5 separate regions of the Homo sapiens genome follow, and regions 2, 3, 4 and 5 are each linked to region 1. The links come from fine-mapping of genetic effects on gene expression. A gene starts in region 1. Each other region holds a variant in brackets. All regions are shown on one strand. Distances are between the middles of the regions.

What was found.
Region 2: its variant is fine-mapped to the expression of FUOM in lung (TOPMed, PIP above 0.99). The same link has a PIP of 0.9 or more in blood mononuclear cells.
Region 3: its variant is fine-mapped to the expression of FUOM in whole blood (TOPMed, PIP above 0.99).
Region 4: its variant is fine-mapped to the expression of FUOM in whole blood (TOPMed, PIP above 0.99).
Region 5: its variant is fine-mapped to the expression of FUOM in whole blood (TOPMed, PIP above 0.99).

The regions. Positions count from the first base shown.
Region 1 is chr10:133,355,540-133,359,656 of GRCh38, forward strand. It overlaps FUOM (fucose mutarotase), which reads right to left and starts at 2,480. Exons shown (of 6, transcript NM_001098483.3): 1 at 2,384-2,480; 2 at 1,648-1,716; 3 at 1,404-1,474; 4 at 1,101-1,199; 5 at 199-272. The coding sequence starts at 2,468. RefSeq lists enhancers at 497-1,231, 1,709-1,808 and silencers at 1,959-2,578, 2,629-2,708, 3,741-3,903.
Region 2 is chr10:133,297,706-133,301,822 of GRCh38, forward strand. TUBGCP2 (tubulin gamma complex component 2) reads right to left here. Exons shown (of 18, transcript NM_006659.4): 3 at 2,280-2,408; 4 at 1,722-1,898; 5 at 247-406. Among named protein-coding and RNA genes, the nearest start is that of TUBGCP2, 9.1 kb to the right of the region's middle. The variant G/A (reference allele first, on the strand shown) is at 2,040.
Region 3 is chr10:133,313,164-133,317,280 of GRCh38, forward strand. All of the region lies in intron 5 of ZNF511-PRAP1 (ZNF511-PRAP1 readthrough), which reads left to right. Among named protein-coding and RNA genes, the nearest start is that of ZNF511-PRAP1, 6.3 kb to the left of the region's middle. RefSeq lists enhancers at 904-1,173, 1,180-1,681. The variant C/T (reference allele first, on the strand shown) is at 1,724.
Region 4 is chr10:133,390,994-133,395,092 of GRCh38, forward strand. PAOX (polyamine oxidase) reads left to right here. Exons shown (of 7, transcript NM_152911.4): 7 at 319-701. The coding sequence ends at 462. It overlaps MTG1 (mitochondrial ribosome associated GTPase 1), which reads left to right and starts at 3,164. Exons shown (of 11, transcript NM_138384.4): 1 at 3,164-3,339. The coding sequence starts at 3,228. RefSeq lists silencers at 2,956-3,305, 3,366-3,565 and an enhancer at 3,890-4,099. The variant G/A (reference allele first, on the strand shown) is at 1,857.
Region 5 is chr10:133,382,426-133,386,542 of GRCh38, forward strand. It overlaps PAOX (polyamine oxidase), which reads left to right. Exons shown (of 7, transcript NM_152911.4): 4 at 1,535-1,787. Among named protein-coding and RNA genes, the nearest start is that of PAOX, 5.2 kb to the left of the region's middle. The variant C/T (reference allele first, on the strand shown) is at 1,986.

The DNA of each region.
Region 1 (4,117 bases):
CACTTGATGCTCAGGCAAATGGGGGCCCTGCCCCCCCGAAATTCCTCCCTGGTCTCTCCACTCTGTGGGACGTCTAGCCTCAGCCAGGCAGAAGCTGAGAAGAGGGTAGGGGCAGCTCCTGAGGCCCCCCGGTGGGGATGGGGGCAGCTCCTGAGGCCCCAGTGGGGATGGGGCAGGTCTGAGCCAGCTGGAACTCACCCCGTTGCCACAACAGCAAAAGCCTTCTTAGCCCGTTCATAAAACTCAAACCTCTCTATCTTTGCCAGGGCTCTCTGGAAGACAAAATGGCAGGGTTGGAGGGAACCCTGCCAAGAAACCCTCATGGGCCAGCCCTGGACTCCCCAGGGCCCAAAGCAGGGAGGGCACCAGGAAGTGGGGTTCCATTTCTTGGGCTCTCCCCCGGCAAGGGCCCCACGGTCACTCAGCCTCTGGCTCCCAAGGCCTAGGACAGGGGGTCCCAGGACATGGTGGACGAGGAACCTGCCATGCTTGGGTCTCTGCCTGACCTGGGGCCACCCAGACAGCTCAGTAGACTGTCGAGCCCCTGCCAGCTGTCCTGGGGGGAGTCCCCTGCCCAGGACAAGAGCCCCTGGCCCCCCTTATGGAGGCCCTGCTCAAGACCTGCCAGTGGGTTGCCCAGGAAAATGGGCCTGTCCCCTTGCAGGGCAAGGTGTGGAGAGGGCTGAGTGAGACACAGCACCCAGCTAAGCCTCTGACCAACCATAGCCAGGATGGGGCGAGAGACCTGGGACCAGGGGGCACCCCTCCAGGGGAGATTGAGGAGGTGGAGGCCAGGCATCCTGAGTCCCCCAGGCTCCACTCACAGGCTGTGGTGGGTGACAACCCACCTGGCAGGTCAGGATCCTGGGCGGGGCAGGGCAGGTGGAAAGCTCGGGGGCAGAGGAAGAGGGGCCACACTGCCCAGGTGCACCTCTTCCACCTGGCTGGTGAAGGAGTGCCAGTGGTCCGGGGTTCTCAGGGTGATGGGTGGGAGACCACTTGAGGACAGAGCTTGGGACCCTCTGTCTTTGGCTCCTCCTGAGCCTCCAGGAGACAGAGGGTCCCTGGCCTTTTCCCCACAACTGGGGCTGCAGGCTTACCACACAGCCGGCCCTGCGTAGGATGGACTCGTACTCCGTCCACACTGGGGTCTGCAGGCCCCTCTCCTTGTCGCTGGGCACCAGCTCCATGACTGCAGCCTAGAGGGAGGGGTCAGCTCTGGGGCCCTGGGCACTGCCAGCCTTCCTGGTCAGGTGACCATTCGGGACTCCCCTGGTGAGGGTCAGGGCCCCTTTGGGGACACATGGCTTCCCCCCACTCCAAGGCAGGTGGGCCCTATGAAGCCCGCAAAAGGGGAAACTGAGGCACGGAGCAGCAGGGTGCAGGGGCGACTCAGCCCTCACCGGACTCTCCACATAGGTGTCCAGGGGCAGCAGCTTCAGCACGGCCTCCAGGAGCTGCGGGATGCCCAGGCCTGGAGGGCAGAGGAGGCAGCACTCAGTCTCCAGCCCGCCCGCCCGCCTGCCTGTCTGCACCCTTCACACTGCAAGCATGGACTTGGGGCCACGGCAGGCCACAGAGGAGCCTCAGAGCCAGGAGCACCGCTCACCCGCCCGCCCTGCCCTGGGGGACCTGGGGCTCGCTCACCGTCTGCACGGATCTCCATGGGCCCACACTGGCAGATGGAGGAGGCCGGGAAGTTCAAGTCCGCAAGAACTAAACAGCCGGGAGGACAGCCCGTGTCGGCACCTATCCCTGCCCTCGGGGTCGGCGCCGCCCGTCCTCCCACCCAGTCATGGCGGCAGATCGTGGGTCACAAGAGGTCTCAGGTCAGCCAGTTGGGCGCCCCCACCGCCGACCGGCCGCAGTCAGATCCGCAGGGCTGGAAGCCACGCGGGGAGGTGGGGAGGGCAAGGTCCCTGCCTGGGAGGCAGAGAGGCGTCAACAGCTGCCCGCGAGGCTGTCGGGTGCTGACCAGGCCAGGGGGCCGACCCGGACCCGGCCGCCTCCCCAGGGGCCAGAGGACGCGCGGCTGCCCGCGATGCCCGGACCAGGCCCCCGGCCACCCAACCCCTGCCCCGGGACCCCAGGCCCCAGGAGAAGAAAAAGCGCCGAACCCTCGGGGGCAGCCCAGACGCGAGGGCTCTCGGGCCGTCTGGGGAGGGACTCCGGGAGAAGCTCGGGCCGGCTCCGCCCAGAGCCCCACGAGGTCTCAGTTCCCTAAAGAATGCGGGGGAGGGGGCTTCCTGCCCGGAAGCCAGGGAGGCCCGAGCAACGCCCACACCCCAGGACGCGGCCCTTCCCGGCCCGGGGGTCCCCGTGCAAGCCTCGCCCTCCTGCCTGTCCCGGGGTGCTCCCCGAGGCCCCGGCCCGCTGCGCTCACCGATCTCGTCCCCGTGCCCCATCCGCGCCAGCGCGTAGAGCAGCTCGGGGGACAGCAGTGCGGGGACACCCTTCAGCGCCACCATGGCCCGGCAGACGGGGCGGGCGGGGCCTAGGGGCGGGGCTTGGGGGCCGGGGCGGGGCCTTACGGGGAGGGCGGGGCTTGGGGGCAGAGGCGGGGGCCTTACGGGGAGGGCGGGGCTTAGGGGCAGAGGCGGGGCTTTACGGGGAGGGCGGGGCTTTATTGGAGGGCGGGGCTTTAGGGTCCCGGGCTTGGGGCTTGGGGACGGGCCGGGCCTAGGGTTCGGCGGGCTGGGGTCCGCTTGCGGCTCAAGGAAGGGCGGGGAGCCCCAGGAACTGGGGACGTGCGGGCTGAGTCGTGGCGTGGGGGCAACACCCAGCCAGCCCACGGGCTCCTCGCCAGGTCCGAGACTCGGGTGCCCTTGCGCTGTGGCCGGGGGCTCCCCAGTGTCCCTACCCGAGCCTCCCACCCCGAGCTCCCTCAGGCCGAAGGGGTTCAACCGCCGCGGCCTCCCCTCATGAGGGTCTCTGCCCTCTGACCACTTCGTGCTGCCCTTAGGCCTGGCAGAATGCCCGGAGCGCACCGGGTCCCTGGGGTCACCATGGTGGGTAGCTGGACCCAGGCCTTCAGCCCACGCTCCTGAGGGACCGGGAGCAAGGGACACGGGAGCCAGGACTTCGGACCCCCTTGGGGGGAGTCCAGGAGGGCAGCCAGGCCCAGCTTCCAGGCTCAGCTGCGAAGTGCCAGGACACCTAAGGGTCCTCCATCATCCCCCGGTGTCAGCGGCCTGCAACCCCCTGCCCAGGATGGCGGCATCCTGACCTTTGGCTGAGCTCAGGCTGGCCAGGCCCTCCCTCCGCGGAACCACCTTCTTCCACATGATTCCCAGCTGGACACCAGCTGTGGGGCTAGCACTGCGGCCCTGGCCCTCAGCCCTGAGGTGACACAAATGCTCTGAGGCCTGGCGGCTCCTAAAAAGTTCTGAAAATCAATCTGTATGTGAAAAATGACAAAGCCGCGTCAGAAAACCAGGAGGAAACAGACGTCTCCATGTTGAACTGCTTGGCCCTAGGAGCCTGTCCCCATGGGAAGTGGCCTGGGCTGCGTCGGAAAAGCCTGGTGGGGCCACCCAGGCTGGCACCCAGCAGCACCTGAACAGCTGGCCCTGGGCCGGCCACTCGGGCAGAGAGAAGACCGGGGCTGCCCAGGGCCTGCCAATGAGGGGTGGCTTTGCACCGAGGCCACCGGGTTTCAGAGCTGTACCTGGGCAGTTTCTACTCCAACTTGTAAGTGGAGAGTCACCGTTTACCCAAATATACAAGGGCAAGAGGATTTTATAGAGATGGGCAAGAAAGTTTTCAGCTTCAAAACCAAATCAGGCCGGGCGCGGTGGCTCACACCTGTGATCCCAGCACTTTGGGAGGCCGAGGCGGGCGGATCACTTGAGGTCAGGGGTTGGAGACCAGCCTGGCCAACATGGTGAAACCCCGTCTCTTCAAAATATACAAAAATTAGCCAGGCATGGTGACTGGTGCCTGTAATCCCAGCTACTTGGGAGGCTGAGGCACGAGAATTGCTTGAACCCGGGAAGCGGAGGGTGCAGTGAGCCGAGATCACTCCACTGCTCTCCAGCCTGGGTGACAGAAAGTGACTCCGTCTCAAAAAAAAAAACAAAACCAACAAAGAAAAAACACCTAATCAAACCCCAAACAA
Region 2 (4,117 bases), 58 kb before region 1:
AGAAGAACCCTCAAGGACCCGGGTGAGCCGTTCTCTGCTGCCATCCTGGGATGGGAATATGGAGGCGGCAGCCAGTCAGCATTGAGCCTCACAACCTGAGGAAAGGCAGGCCCGGGGGAGGGCTGGGCCTGCAAAGTGTCCTGCCCAGAGGCCAGAAATAAACACATGACATACCTATCGGCAGAGCCCGGAAATCAACGCATCACGTACCTATCGGCAGAGCCCGGAAATCAACGCATCACGTACCTATCGGCAAAGCGGTGTCTGTGCTGATGCCAGCACCAATCAGGAAATCCCCGATCAGGGCAGGTCTCTCATACACCCATGCTGGGAAGATGGGGAGGTGCTGGCCTGAATTTTTTTTGTTCTGCTTGTCTCGAAGCATCTTTCTTTTAAGTTCCAGAGACTAGCAAGGACATTTTAAAAAACAAAACCAGAAAGATACACTTTAGCGCAAACACTCAACTAAAGACATGCATAGAAGCTAGCATCTACGGCAAAGATGATTACTCAATTCAACACCCACAAAGGGTCAACCACATAGAAATGAAATGCGCCTCGACATCCCTGCCTGCCACAACGTGAGGGGCTGGGGACAACAGGGCAGATGGGGAGCCCTAGCCCCTCTTCTCAGGAGTGCAGGTCCTGCAAGGGCCCCCCTGGGAAAACATGAGCACCAGCAGTGGGAACCACGGGAGAGGGTGCACCTAGGCACAGAGCCGCTGTTTCAAAGGAGGGCGCCCTGTGAACAAGCTGAATTGCTTCTTTCTGGCAGTGACTAGGTCTGAACACCACTTGATGGGTGAAGACAGGCTTCAGCAACAGACATGCATCCTTACCCTGCCGGAGAAGGGCCCCAGCGTGACAGGATGGCTCCTGACATGTGGTCAGAGAGCCTGCCCTCCTGCGCCAGTGGCCGCCAGAGGCTGATGGGGTCGGCCTGGGCTGGCCCAGCTTTCGGAAGCACTGACTCCCACTCAGGGCTGGTCAGGGACACGGGCAGATGCAAACTGTCTCTGCACGTGGCAGTAAGACCCAGTCTTCTGCCACGGCTGAGGGAGACGTGGACAGAGGCCTAGCACCATGTCCAGCACAGAACGTGCCCAGCAAGAACCGGCTGGGTCCTTGGGAGCCGCTGCACTCAACACGCACCCAGGAGGCTAGGACGCCTCAGGGACACAGCTCCAAAGGGAGTTTAAAGGTCACAAAGGCAGGAACGTGGCAGCTCTAATGAGAGAGACTGGGAGATGACTTACGTCAAAAGACCAGGGTAGGGCATAAAATCAAAACCAAGAGCAAGTAGCAAATACAGAAGGAATAATAAAAATTACTGTATTTTCGAGAATCTTGAAAATATAATGATCTGAAAGCATTCCCTCAAAATTGTCAAAAATTGGAGGAGGGAAATGGGGAGTCAGGATTGGGTAGGCTCAGAGTCACGTGGCCACCTGGCAGCACAACTCCCACGTGGGTCAGAACCTTGCTGCTATTGATTCTTGTGGTCCAGAATTCTTGGTTAAAAAAAAAACTAAACATATAGAGCTAGGTCATGATCAAGCATTAAGCCTTGGCCTCTCTAAGGGATTCATTTTCAATAAATGACAGAGAGACATGTCCTTCCAGCAGGGGCCCGGCACAGCACTGAGTGTGGGTGCCTGTGGACGCCACGGACACAGGACCTGCTGCAGCATGGAGCCTGTGGACAGCCATGGACGCAGTACCTGCTGCAGCGTGGAGCCTGTGGCCACGCTGCCAAGCTGCTTCCTCAGTTCCTCAAGCTCCTGCATGGAGATCTTGGAGGCCGCGGCAGGGACGTTGATGCTGGTGGTACTGCTGCCCACAGCAGCGGCTGCAAGCTCAGCTCTTTCTTTTGCATTCTGTTGTAAGTACTGCAGAGTCTGAAAACATGTAAAACTGTGTGTTCACACTGGGCCAGCACCTCTTTGGCCATAGGGGGAGAGTAGGGACGACACCACCAGGACGGCTCCCCAACCCTGACAGGCACCCATTAATAGCAAAGCGACGCGTGCGACAGGCAG[G/A]AACTGAGCGTGACACATGCGGGAAGCTCAAAGTGCCCCAGAGGCTGCTTCTCATGTTTACACCCAACATGGGTTATCTTTCATTCTGATTCACCAAAAATTTCCTACATGGCCTAGAAGCGTTACTGGTGTGAGCGAGGAAGAGCTGACAGGAAGATGGCGTGGAGTGAGCAGGAGACGCGACCCCACTCCCAACATGGGCCGTACGGGCGCAGTGTGGCACGTGGCATGGGCACCTACCTCTTTGTCTTCCGTGAGCTTTGACAACAGGTACACCAGCGGGTCAAGGTTCCTTGTATTTTTAGATTTCAGTTCATCATATTTCTTTAGAAAGTCTTCTGGAGTACGAGAAAACTCTGCAATTTTAACCTCAAAAGCACAAACATGAGTGATTTAATGACGGTAATTAATAAAGCACTGTAAAAAAAAACCTTTACGAAAATTGAACACAATAAGCCAATGGAATTAAATTGGGTAGGTTAAATAATTATCCCTCTGAAATAAACTAACAAAACTCATCTCCATATTGTGTTAAACTTATCCATGTTTTGAGCTAGGCAGTGGCTCATGACTGTAATCCCAGCACTTTGGGAGGCCGAGGCTGGTAGACTGCTTGAGTCCAGGAGTTCAAGACCAGCCTGGCCAAAATAACAAAACCCCATTTCTACAAAAAGATTCAAAAATTAGCGAGGCGTGGTGGCACTTGCCTGTGGTCACTACTTGGGAAGCTGAGATGGGAGGATCACATCAGCCTGGGAGGTTGAGACTGCAGTAAGACAAGATCGTGCCACATGCATTCCAGCCTGGGTGACAGAGTAAGACTCTGTCTCAAAACAAAACAAAACAAACCTTATCCGTATTTCCCATTATGGTTCCTTTCCTTTTGTGCTTCTTCGTATTATTTTAATTTTTTCTAGAGACAGGATTTCACCATGTTGCCCAGACTGCTCTCAAACTCCCAGGCTCAAGCCATCCACCTGCCTCGTCCCAAAGTGCTGGCGTTACAGGTGTGAGCCCCTGCGCCCGCCCTTTTATGCTTCTTCAGGTTTGTACTGGAGAGTAGCGACTTACACTTCCCCCCAGTAGTTTATGCGTTCATTGTATACATTTCACTGTATTCCCTTTTATGCTGCTTCAGGTTTGTACTGGAGAGTAGCAACTTGCATTTCCCCCCAGTAGTTTATGCGTTCATTGTATGCATCTCACTGTGTTCCCTTTTATGCTTCTTCAGGTTTGTACTGGAGAGTAGCGACTTACCTTTTCCCCCCAGTAGTTTATGCGTTCATTGTCTGCATCTCACTGTATTCCCCGCAGTAGTTTATGCGTTCATTGTATACACCTCACTATGTTCCCTCTGGAATTTGTTATTATGTGCAACCCTAGGGGTTATGCTTTTTCTTTTGGACGGAGTTTCGCTCTTGTTGCCCAGGCTGGAGTGCAATGGCGTGATCTAGGCTCACCGCAACCTCCACCTCCCTGGTTCAAGTAATTCTCCTGCCTCAGCCTCCTGAGTAGCTGCATTACTGGCACGCACCACCACGCCCTAATTTTTGTATTTTTAGTAGCGATGGGGTTTCTCCATGTTGGCCAGGCTGGTCTCGAACTCCCAACCTTAGGTGATCCACCCGCCTCGGCCTCCCAAAGGGCTGGGATTACAGGTGTGAGCGACCGTGCCCAGCAGGGGTTATGTTTTACTCAGTGATTTACAATGCTTCCTTCAGAATGAACTAAACATGGGTGTCCCCAAGTCTCTATTCCACTCGGCTAATTTGCCTAATTATCCTTGTGCCATTGTTAACCTGTTTAAATAACTGAAGCTTCATAATGTATTTTTTAAAATAGACTTCAAATTCAAAATCATTTTTACTGAAAATCTATACTTCTGAATTACATATTATCTGAATAAAGAAATAATACCTTAAAGGCATTTCAACATGGTTAATACCAGTCCCTCCCTTTTTTTTTTTTTTTTTTTTTTTTTTTTTTGAGACAGAGTCTCACTCTGACGCCCAGGCTGGAATGCAGTGGCACGATATCTCGGCTCACTGCAAGCTCCACCTCCCGGGTTCACGCCACTC
Region 3 (4,117 bases), 42 kb before region 1:
GTCTTGAGTCTTCATTTCTGTGTTGAGTCAGGTGCGGAGTGGTTATTGTTACCCATGGGTATTCTGTTTTCCACCCTCAGTTTTCAGGAAGATTTATAAAGTCCTGGCACCCCTCAGAGGTGGGTGATGGGGTAGGATACAGCACTCCACCTCGTCCCGGACCTCCTGGCTTTGGGAGCCACACCCAGTTGTCCTTGCCACACCACTTAGGGAGTAGACCTGGTGGGGGTAGGATCTGATGCCCACAGGGAGGGGCACTGGCTCTGGGGGCATGGGGTGCTTGGGGGTGTGTGGGATGCTGGGGGAGTGGGGGGTGCTGCCCCAGAGGGTGCAGGATCCATCACTAGTGCCAGCGGGGACCACAGAGCCTGCATCAGGAAATGCAGGCCAGGAGATTGGGGCTGGCATTGGATTGCAGAGATACACTGGGGGCAGTGTGTCCTGGAGAAATCACTCTGTTTTGATAAAATTAGGGCGCTCAGAGACTCCCGACCACGTCTTCCTCCAGCGGCCCTGTTCCCACAGCATGTGATATAGGCGGCAAGCCACCCAGGTGCCAAGGCAAGAGAACGAGGGCACGAGCTGTTCCAGTATAACAAATATATAAAATAACAGGAGTTATACTAGATATATGTCATAGATATGATTATATATGTATCACTAATCATTAGTTTGTAGTAATTATTCTTTATTCCAATATTATAATAATCCTCACTCTACAATCATAACCTAGGAAAAACCAGGCCATACGGAAATAGGAGCTGAGGGGACATAGTGAGAAGTGACCAGAAGACAAGAGTGTGAGCCTTCTGTCATGCCCGGACAGGGCCACCAGAGGGCTCCTTGGTCTAGCGGTGACGCCAGCGTCTGGGAAGATGCCCGTCGCCAAGCGGACCGTAGTCTAGTGGTAACGTCAGTGCAAAGGAAAAGCACCTGCTACTTAGCAGACTGGGAGAGGGAGTCTCCCTTTCCCTGGGGGAGTTTAGAGAAGACTCTACTCCTCCACCTCTTGTGGAAGGCCTGATATCAGTCAGGCCCGCCCGCAGCCATCTGGAGGCCTAACCGTCTCCCTGTGATGCTGTGCTTCAGTGGTCACACTCCTAGTCCGCTTTCATGTTCCATTCTGTACACCTGGCTCTGCACTTTAGATAGCAGTAGCAAAATTAGTGAAAGTACTAAAAGTCTCTGATATGCAGAAGTAATGGCGTAAGCTGCCTCTCTCTCTCTGCCTCTCTGCCTTGGCTGCCAAATGACGAAGGGCCCCCTGTCCAGTGGACACGTGACACACGTGACCTTACCTATCATTGGAGATGACTCACACTCTTTACCCTGCCCCCTTGTCTTCTATCCAATAAAAGTGCAGCCTGGCATTCTGGGCCGCTACCGGTCTCCGCGTCTTGGTGGTAGTGGTCCCCCGGGCCCAGCTGTCTTTTATCTCTTTGTCTTGCGTCTTTATTTCTACGATCTCTTGTCTCTGCACACGGGGAGAAAAACACACAGACCCTGTGGGGCTGGTCCCTTCATGTGACTGGTGTGCTCCTGGCCCCCTGCCCCTGGCATTGCCTCACAGCCCACTCCTTTTGGGGCTCTGGGTCTGGCTGGAGGCAGTGGGTGGTCATCTGCAGCTGCTGCCCAGCTCCACAGGATGATGCTGAGAGCTCTCCAGCAACCTGGAGTCAAGGAATCTCAAGGGCCTCAGGTTCAGAGCTGACATGGCACAGTG[C/T]TTCGTGCTCTGAAAACTGAAGGCAGGTTCCCAAGCACTCAAGGGAAGACACTAAAGCCTGAAGCCCAGGCCTGGGTGCATCAGTGAAGAGAGGTTTCACACGCACATGTGTGGGGTGGGAGATGAGCACTGGCCGAGGGTGGCTGTGGTGGGGCCGCCCGGGGCCTGTCGGCTGCTTGAGAAAGCACAACACAAGAAAAATGCAAACACGCAGATTTACTGCTGGTTCTCCATCTCCCTGAGAAGATCCTGCCCCAGCCCGTTGAATCCTCTGGCTCTTGCGTGAGCTCCCTGCACAAGGCCAGCAGCACAGCCCTGGCGGCAGCGCTCCACGAGGATGTATTAGCCCTTTCCACAACAGCAGATTCTGCTAAAACTCTTTTGTTCACAGCAGGACTGTTCTATACCCTTCGGGGACTGTTGGTCCTGGCTTCCAATCCTAGCTTCATCTCTGCCTGGAAGCGATTTGTTTATTCTGTCTCAGTTTTTCTTCTGACAAGTGGGGAGTGTAAAACTTCGGTATGAAGAATGTTACTGTTTTGTTTCAAAGCCAGCATCATAACTGTACGTGGGCTGCATCCGTTTCTAAGAAGATACTCATGTTTCTTTTCTTTCTTTCTTCTTTTTTTTTTTTTTTTTTTTTTTTTTTTTTTTTGAGGCAGGCTCGCTCTTCTTGCCCAGGCTGGAGTGCAGTGGCATCATCCTGGCTCACTGCAACCTCTGCCCCCTGAGTTCAAGCGATTCTCCTGCCTCAGCCTCCTGAGTAGCTGGAATTACAGACACACAACATCGTACCCAGCTACTTTTTGTATTTTTAGTAGATACAGGGTTTCACTATGTTGGCCAGGCTGGTCTCGAACTCCTGACCTCAGGTGATCTGCCTGCCTCAGCCTCCCAAAGTGCTGGGATTACAGTCATGAGCCACCACGCCCGGCAGAGATGCTCGTGTTTCAGCTGCAAGACCTGTGAGAGCTGAAGCCAGCTGGACTTCCTGGGTCGAGTGGGGACTTGGAGAACTTTTGTGTAGCTAGCTAGAGGTTTGTAAAATGCACCAATCAGGGCTCTGTAAAAATGCACCAATCAATGCTCTGTAGCTAGCTAGAAGTGTTTAAAATGGGCCAATCAGCACACTGTAAAATGGACCAATCAACACCCTGTAAAATGGACCAGTCAGCGGGACATGGGCAGGGACAAATAAGGGAATAAAAGCTGCCCCTTCCAACACACACACACAACCCCCTCCGCCACCCAGCCAGCAGTGGTGACCCTCTGCTGTTCACAATAACTTTTGCTGCTGCTCACTCTTTGGGTCCATGCCATCTTTAAGAGCTGTAACACTCACCACGAAGATCCGCAGTTCCATTCTTGAAGTCAGCAAGACCACGAACCCACTGGAAGGAACCAACTCCCGACACACCTGGAAGTGGCTTCCAGGTTGCAGCTGTCAAGAGGACTCAGACAAGGCACAGGATGGAACAACTGCACTCCCCAGACACAGAGACGGAAAGGCCACACACCCCCAAGACATAGAGATGGAAAGGCCACACACCCCGAAGACATAGAGATGGAAAGGCCACACCCCCCTCCCTGGACACAGAGATGGAAAGGTCGCACCCCCCTACCAAACACAGAATGGAACAGCCACACCCCCGCTTAGGACACAGAGATAGGAAGGCCGCACCACCCCTCCCCCCGACCTGGACACAGAGATGGAAAGACCACACTCCCCAAGACACAGAGATGGAAAGACCATACCCCCCCAGGACACAGCGATGGAAAGACCACCCCCCCCCCCCCCCCCCCCACACACACACACACACACAAACAGATGGAAAGACTGCACCCTGCCACAGGACACAGAGATGGAAAGACCACACCCACCCCCCAGACACAGAGATGGAAAGACCACCCCCGCAAGACACAGAGATGGAAAGACCGCACCCCCCCAGACAGAGAGATGGAAAGACCACACCCCCCACAACAGGACACAGAGATGGAAAGACCACACCCACCCCAGACAAAGAGATGGAAAGACTGCACCCCCCACCAACACAGAGATGGAAAGACTGTATCCCCAAACACAGAGATGGAAAGACCGCACCCCCCCTCCCCCAGGACACAGAGATGGAAAGACCACACCCCCTCCAGACGCAGAGATGGAAAGACCACACCCCCCCCAGACGCAGAGATGGAAAAACCGCACCCCGCCACACACAGAGATGGAAAGACTGCACCCCCCCTTCCCAAGGACACAGAGATGGAAAGACCGCACCCCACCCCAGACACACAGATGGAAAGGCCTCACCCCCCCAGGACACAGAGATGGAAAGACCACACCCTCCCTCCCCCAGGACACAGAGATGGAAAGGCCGCACCGCCCCCAGGACACAGAGA
Region 4 (4,099 bases), 35 kb after region 1:
ATGCGTGTGAGCCGTTTTCCCGCCCGTTGGTGGATGCGTGTGAGCCGTTTTCCCGCCCGTTGGTGGATGCGTGTGAGCCGTTTTCCTGGCTGTTGATGGATACATGTGAGCTGTTTTCCTGCCCGTTGGTGGATGTGTGTGAGCTGTTTTCCTGGCTATTGGTGGGTACACGTGAGCCCTTTTCTCGTCCGTTGGTGGAGGTGTGTGAGCTGTTTTCCTGCTTCTTGGTGGATGCTTGTGAGCCATTTTCTGTGTTTCCTTGCCCAGACCCTGCTGTCTGAATTGCATCCCCATTCTAACCCTGGCTCTTCTTTGCAGCTCCAGATCCTGTTTGCGGGGGAAGCCACACATCGCACGTTTTACTCCACGACGCACGGGGCTCTGCTGTCGGGATGGAGGGAGGCCGACCGCCTCCTCAGTCTGTGGGCCCCGCAGGTGCAGCAGCCCAGGCCCAGGCTCTAGCTGGGCCCAGCCTACTCTGTTCCACCCGTGTCGGGGGTAGGCTGGGACCCTCATTTCTTCTGACAGATTTCAGTCTGGCTTGAAATTTGGGGATGTTAATGAGGGTCCTCTGGTTTTTGGTAACCAGGGCCACCTTCTCAGTTCTTGTGTCTGTTATTGGAGTCTGGCCAGGGTTGACTTGAGCTGAGACACCAGATGCTCACGGAGATGCTGGACACATAAAGCAAGTTACAGCCACAGCTCCCAGAGCCATCTTTCCTGCCTTGAGGCTGTCCTGTCCTTCCTGCCTTGGGGCTCCAGCATCTGCTGCTGTTGTCTTTGTCTTGCTCCGGGCCCAGGTTGCACAGGGCCCTGTGTCTCCAATCCCCACAACCACACATGGCCCCACACTCTGGGTTCCCTGAACTCTGGGTCCTGTAGTTGCTTCTCGTGCCCCTGCATTCTCGTGGCTGCTGCCTGGGATGACAGCATAGCTGACAACCCTCCTCTTGCTCATCAACTGATGCTGCATCAGGCGCCCACTTCACAGGTTCGCAGGGCACTGGGGAGATGAGGGGTGCCCTGCCCTGCCCTGAGGCCGGGGGTTTTCTGGAGGAAGTGAATACATAATAAGGCCTGAAAAGAGAAACGGTGCCCAGCCCATGGGAGCCAGGGAGTGTGTGGGGCGTGGGCAGTGCTGGGGTGAGTGTGCTGGGTGCTGGGGGGTGTTGGGGTGGGGGCAGTGCTGGGGTGCTGGGGGGTGTTGGGGTGTGGGTAGTGTTGGGTGCTGGGGGGTGTTGGGGTGAGTGTGCTGGGTGCCGGGGGATGTTGGGGTGTGGGCAGTGCTGGGGTACCACGTGGTATTGGGGTGAATGTGCTGGGAGTCCAGGCCCCTCTCCGGCCCCTCCACCCCAGCCTGGATCTGCAGGGCTCCTCTCTTCTCACCCTCTGGTCTCTGTTCAAATTGCCCCTCCTAGGATGTTCCCTGACCCCACCCTCCCGAGCCCCAGCCTCCCTCTGTAGCCAGCAGCCCCACCTGCATTTGCTGTGTCACCAGACTGTTCTCTCTGGGGACACCTGCCCATCAGACGCCTGGGAGAGAAATTCAGATTCCACAGGGTTTTATTGTGGTTTTGTGCTCCTAGGACCATGAGGGAATGCAGCTTCCTTAAAGTACAAAAATCTTTATCATTGACATTTAGGGTTTCATCAATTCTGTATCCCAGGGAGAAAGGCAGCAAGACCCAGGCTGCCCCCTCTGGGTGTGAGGGACCGGCTTGGTGAGGAGGGGGCTTGGGGGCATTGACCTAGCAGGAGGCCCTGACTGCCCCCACTCAGCCCAGAAACCACCTGGGAGGCTTCTGTCTTCCACGGAGGGGCCACTCTCTCATGCCCAAAAATATTTACAGCTAGGC[G/A]TTAGGGTATTAGGTGGTTTAAGAACATCAGAACCATGGCAATATTTTTGTACTTAGAATTTGAGCATGTTTGGTATTTTCAGTAGCTTGTTTAAAAAATTCCAGTAGAGGCTGGGTGCCATGGCTCATGCCTGTAATTCCAGCACTTTGGGAGGCTGAGGTGGGCAGATCACCTGAGGTCAGAGTTCGAGACTAGCCTGGCCAACATGGTGAAACCCCATCTCTACTAAAAATACAAAAAAAGTAGCCGGGCGTGGTGGTGCGCACCTGTAGTCCCAGCTACTCAGGAGGCTAAGGCAGGAGAACTGCTTGAACCCCGGGAGGCGGAGGTTGCAGTGAGCCAAGATCACGCCACTGCACTCCAGCCTGGCGACAGAGCGAGACTCCGTCTCAAAAATAAAAATTCCGGTAGAGTAATACTCTTGTAACGCAGTGTGCAATTGAGCAGTTGCTGACTGCTGATTTAGAGTTGAAATCCGACTATATTTATGTCTAGTCTTGGACAGTGGAGAATATTTCAGCCTCATTAATTAATCGGTTTAATTTAGCAGAACTGCAGTCAGTATTTGGAAACAGTTTGTTATATTAAACCCTGAAGTACTTGAGGCTGCGCGCGGTGGCTCATGCCTGTAATCCCAGCATTTTGGGAGGCCGAGACAGGTAGATCACTTGAGGTCAGGAGTTGGAGACCAGCCTGGCCAACATGGTGGAACTCCATCTCTACTAAAAATACAAAATCAGCCGGCGTGGTGGCAGGCGCCAGTAATCCCAGCTACTCCGGAGGCTGAGGTGGGAGAATCCCTTGAACTCAGGAGTTGGAGGTTGCAATGAGCGAGATCGTGCCACTGCACTCTTGGGCAACAGAGCGGAGACTCCGTCTCAAACAAAACAAAACAAACAAAAACCCTGAAGTACTTAAAAAGAAAATGAAGAGATTACATTTATAAGGTAAATTTAAAGTATTTGAGAGATTTTAACCAAATTGTAAAAAGAGATTGCTAAATTTTTACACTTATACTCAGGATATGCTTAAGGGAGAACGATGATTTTTAATATTTAATGAATGTTAATAAATCTGCGAATTACTTAAACCCACAAAACCCAGGAACCTCCCCGTCCCCCCGGGTCTCCTCGCAGTCCCGCCCCGACGCTCGACCCACCATTCGTCCCTCCCTCTGGGCCCGGGCCCCGCCCACTCCGGGCTTCGCCGGAGGCGGAGGCAACGTCGTGCGCACGCGCAGGCCGTGGTGCGGCCCCTTGGAGCGCCGGAAGCCCGCAGTGCCGGAGGCCCGCAGCGCCGGAACCTCAGAGGCGGGTCGCAGCGGCGCAGAGGAGGTCAGCTGCGGGAGCGTTTCCGGGGACGGTGCCGCCATGAGATTGACCCCGCGCGCGCTGTGCAGCGCCGCCCAGGCCGCCTGGCGGGAGAACTTCCCCCTGTGCGGTCGCGACGTGGCGCGCTGGTTCCCGGGCCACATGGCCAAGGGTGAGGCACGGCGGGGAGGGGCAAGGTCATGCCTACGGCCGCGGCGCCTCTGCTTCCCTCCCACCCCGGTTTCGGCCGTCGCCTGCTTCTCCCGGTCGTTCTGGGCTGGCCCCGCCCCTCCTCCCTTGTCTCCCCTCCTTCCCCGCTCTCACCCGCTCCCGGAGCCGCCGGGACCCCTTCCCCTGCGCAGCTGCGGGAGAGGCCCGTTCCCGCGAGTGCCCCCGCGGCGCAGCCTCGGACCCAGGGCCTGCTTGACCTCCTACCTCTGGCCCGCCGCCCCTGTCCTCTGTTCCCAGCAAGTTCCTTCTGCCCTTTTAATCCCCCGAAGCCTCCGTTTCCACATGTTCTTGACAAGATAGACTTTTCTGAGTCTTTTGGGGACTAAATGAAACAGTGGGTATGAAGGCACCTGTTCAGTTTTAACTGGTATCTTGAGTCGTTCTCCTGCTTAACGTCTTTGGTAATTCTTACTGTTTGTCACAATTCGGCCCCAAGAAGACCTCTGGGGCCAGCCCAGCCCGTCTAGGTGTTGTGATGGCCACTCCTGCGTCGGCTCCGCGTGTACTGGGGGCCGAGGGGGAAGAAGGGCCCGTGTGGGTGACTGAGGCTGTGTCCTCGGTCTTCGGATAACACTGGAGGGGAAGAAAGCTGGAAGCTTTGTTATCTTGGTTGTGTGTGGTATTCCTGGTTAGGGGACTATCGTCATCATCCCCGCGAGGTAGCAGGGGCCTAATGAGCCAGTGTTACTCTGTGTTATAGC
Region 5 (4,117 bases), 27 kb after region 1:
CAGGGATGAGCACTGAGACCCCATTGCTGTTTCCCAGAGATGCAGTCGTCGTCCACACATGAACATCTGCTGCTGGCTGGGCACGGTGGCTCACGCTTGTAATCCCAGCCCTTTGGGAAGCTGAGGCAGGCGGATCACCTGAGGTCAGGAGTTCGAGACCAGCCTGGTCAACATGATGAAACCCTGTCTCTACTAAAAATCCAAAAATTAGCTGGGCATGGTGGCAGGCACCTGTAATTCCAGCTACTTGGGAGGCTGAGGCAGGAGAATCGCTTGAACGGGGGAGGCAGAGGTCACAGTGAGCCGAGATGGTGTCATTGCACTCCAGCCTGGGTGACAGAGTGAGACTCTGTCTCAGAAAAAAAAAAAAACCAAAAATCTGCTGCTCAGTTTGCCTGTTTTTGTTTTTTGTTTTTTTCTTAATAGAACTTGTCAGTGTTTCCAAATCAGCACACATAGATCTACAGCGGTCTTTTTTGTTTCCCTCCAGTGGCTTTGTTCATTCACGTTTGGAGTAAGTGCTTGCAGGCCCTGCTAAGTGCTGATCACGGGGACATTGTCAGTAGATACATTGCTACAACTGTGAGCATTTTGTTTATAAGGAGCCAGTTCACAAAAATTAGCCGTCGGGTGCCTGTAGTCCCAGCTACTCAGGAGGCTGAGGCTGGAGAATTGCTTGAACCCAGGAGGCAGAGGTTGCAGTGAGCCGAGATTGTGCCATTGCACTCCAGCCTGGGAGACCAGAGCGAAACTCCGTCTCAAAAAAAAAGGAGCGGGTTAATTTGCCACGCAGTGTTTTCTTGTCATTATTTCATAAGCATAGATGGAAATTTAGGTGGCCTTCACTTTTTCTATTTCATGCAGTTTTACATGTGCACTTAAAAACACTTGTGTTGGCCAGGCACGGTGGCTCACGCCTGTAATCCCAGCACTTCGGGAGGCTGAGGCAGGTAGATCACCTGAGGTCACGAGTTCAAGACCAGCCTAACCAACATGGCAAGACCCCATCTCTACTAAAAATAGAAAAATTAGCTGGGCCTGGTCGTGGGTGCCTGTAATCCCAGCTATTTGGGAAGCTGAGGCAGGAGAATCACTAGAACCTGGGAGGTGGAGGTTGCAGTGAGCCAAGATGGCATCGTTGCATTCCAGCTTGGGCGACAGAGTGAGAATCCATCTCAAAAAAAAAAAAAAAAAGAAAACCCAAAAAACAAAAAAACAAAAAACACTTGTGTGAAAGGTGGGGAACAGAGGCTCACGCCTGTAATCCCAGCAGTTTGGGAGGCCAAAGTGGGAGGACTGAGCCAGGGAGGTCAAGGCTGCAGTGAGCCCTGATCATGGTGCTGCATGCACTCTAGCCTGGGCAACAGAGCAAGACCCTATCTCAAAAACAAGGACAAAAAAGTAAAACTGCTTGTGTGAATGTGTCTGTAGGATAAACACCAGCAGGGGAAATTGCTGGATCCAAGGTCTGGACAGACAGGACTTCCGTGGAGGGCTTTATGTGATGTAAGAAGAGTCCAATTCTGAATTCCAGGTTTTCTTAGGGAACATTTGGACACCTTCTTTGACCCTCCCCTGCCGGCTGAGAAGGCAGAAGCAATCAGGAAGATAGGCTTTGGGACCAACAACAAAATCTTCCTGGAGTTTGAGGAGCCCTTCTGGGAGCCAGACTGCCAGCTGATCCAGCTGGTGTGGGAGGACACGTCGCCCCTGGAGGATGCTGCCCCTGAGCTACAGGACGCCTGGTTCCGGAAGCTCATTGGCTTTGTGGTCCTGCCTGCCTTTGCGTACGTTTGCTCCCTGAGAAGTTCTGCGAGTGGCTGGCTCATAGGCCTTCATCTGATGGAGGACGCAGCAGTGTGTCTGTTCACTGCAGGGTATTTCTAGGGGGTTTAATGGGTAGGGTTCCCATGAGCGCCCCCCCACCAGGTGCTGGCTGCACCTGGGCCTGACCCCTGCGGGGACAGATGGCGCCCTGCTGTATG[C/T]GGGTTGTCAGCGTCCCTCAGGGCCCAGAATGTGTTTGTAGACTTGCAGGCAGGCTCAGTCTTCAGTCAGTGGGAACGTGTTTACTGGAATGTTGCAGGGAGCTGGGGCTTGTAGATACAGAAGAACTTTGAAACACCATCTGCCCATACGTGGGGAGACAATACTTAAATGGGATGAAATAATTGAAGGAAACATTCCGAGAAGTAATGGAATGGGAGACCCACAGAGGAAGGGCTCCCTTGTATGGGCTGGCCCTCTTAGAAACAGCATATCTAGACCACGTGGCGATTCAGGAGTTAATCCCATGAGTGATGTGGGGATGGAGGGACTGACTTTTCCAGCAAGATTAAAACACAAAGACAGCCTGATATAGTCAGATGGCAGAAATAATTCCACGTTTCCACTGAGAGATGCCGCAGGAGGGGGCACCAAGTTCTTGTTCTGAAAGACCCGGGATGGGGTGGGATGTAGGGCATGCCTGCCAGATGGTTCATAGTTGCCATCCACTGGGAGCAGGAGGCTGCAGGCTGCAGACCAGCCCTGCACCTGTGACGGGGGAAGCCTGTGTGTCTCCTTCACACTGAAGAGAAAACTGGCATTTCGGCCAGGCGCGGTGGCTCATGTCTGTAATCCCTGCACTTTGGGAGGCTGAGGCGGGTGGATCACCTGAGGTCAGGAGTTCGAGACCAGCCTGGCCAACATGATGAAACCCCGTCTCTACTAAAAATACAAAAAATTAGCCGGTGTGGTGGCACGCACCTGTAATCACAGCTACTCAGGAGGCTGAGGCAGGACAATCGCTTGAACCTGGGAGGCAGAGGTTGCAGTGAGCTGAGATTGTGCCACTGCACTCCAGCCTTGGCAACAAGAGCAAAACTCTGTCTAAAAAAAAAAAGAAAGAAAACTGGCATTCCAGGTGTTGAGATAGGCCTGGGTTGCTGGTGGGCAGCCGGGTGGGTGACTGTGTGTAGAGCCACCTGCTCCAGGCCCAGCCCCACCTCCTGTGCTCTCTTGCTTAGGACATCAGTGGGACCCTGAGTGCTTTGGTGGGACCCTGTCTGTGGCACGGGGTGGTAGCTGTCCCATCCTTTTATATACCTGCAAAGGGTTGGGGATCTCAAAGAGCTTTTGTTTATGTGAGTCACATCTGTAAATTTACCCCATGATAAATAAAATATTTTTTTGTTTTTGAGATGGAGTCTCGCTCTGTCCCCCAGACTGGAGTGCAGTGGTGCAATCTTGGCTCACTGCAAGCCCCACCTCCTGGGTTCACGCCATTCTCCTGCCTCAGCCTCCTGAGTAGCTGGAACTACAGGCACCCACCACCACGCCCGGCTAATTGTTTGTATTTTTAGTAGAGACAGGGTTTCACCGTGTTAGCCAGGATGGTCTCGATCTCCTGACCTCGTGATCCGCCCGCCTCGGCCTCCCAAAGTGCTGGGATTACAGGCATGAGCCACCGCACCCAGTCACCACATGATAAATTAAATTATTATTTGAGATGATAGTAACAAACCTATTCTATGTTAGCATAAATAACATTTTTAAATGAATATTTTCTTAAAATTTAATGAAGGGTGGCAGCAGTTTTGTCTTTTCTGCAAAACTTTTTTTTTTTTTTTTTGAGACAAGGTCTCTCTGTCACCCAGGCTGGAATGCATGGAATGCAGTGGCGTGATCTCAGCTCACTGCAACCTCTGCCTCTTGGGTTCAAGCGATTTTCCTGCCTCAGCCTCCCGAGTAGCTGGGATTATAGGTGTGTGCCACCATGCCCAGCTAATTTTTGTAGTTTTAGTAGAGACAGGGTTTTGCCATGTTGGCCAGGCTGGTCTCGAACTCCTGGCCTCAAGTGATCCGCCCACCTTGGCCTCCCAAAGTGCTGGGATTACAGGTGTGAGCCACCACGCCCGGCCTTTTCTGCAAAACTCTTCAGTGTTACACTTAATAGAAGACATCTGGGTTCTCAGGCCTCCTCTGCATTCATTCTGTGGTGATGTTTTATTTTGGTTGAAACATAGGAAGAAAATGTGGATCTACATGGATATGTGGTTGGAAGAAGGAGTGATATTTGTTTATTTATGAGATGGAGTTTTGCTTTTGTCGCCCAGGCTGGAGTGTAATAGCTCGATCT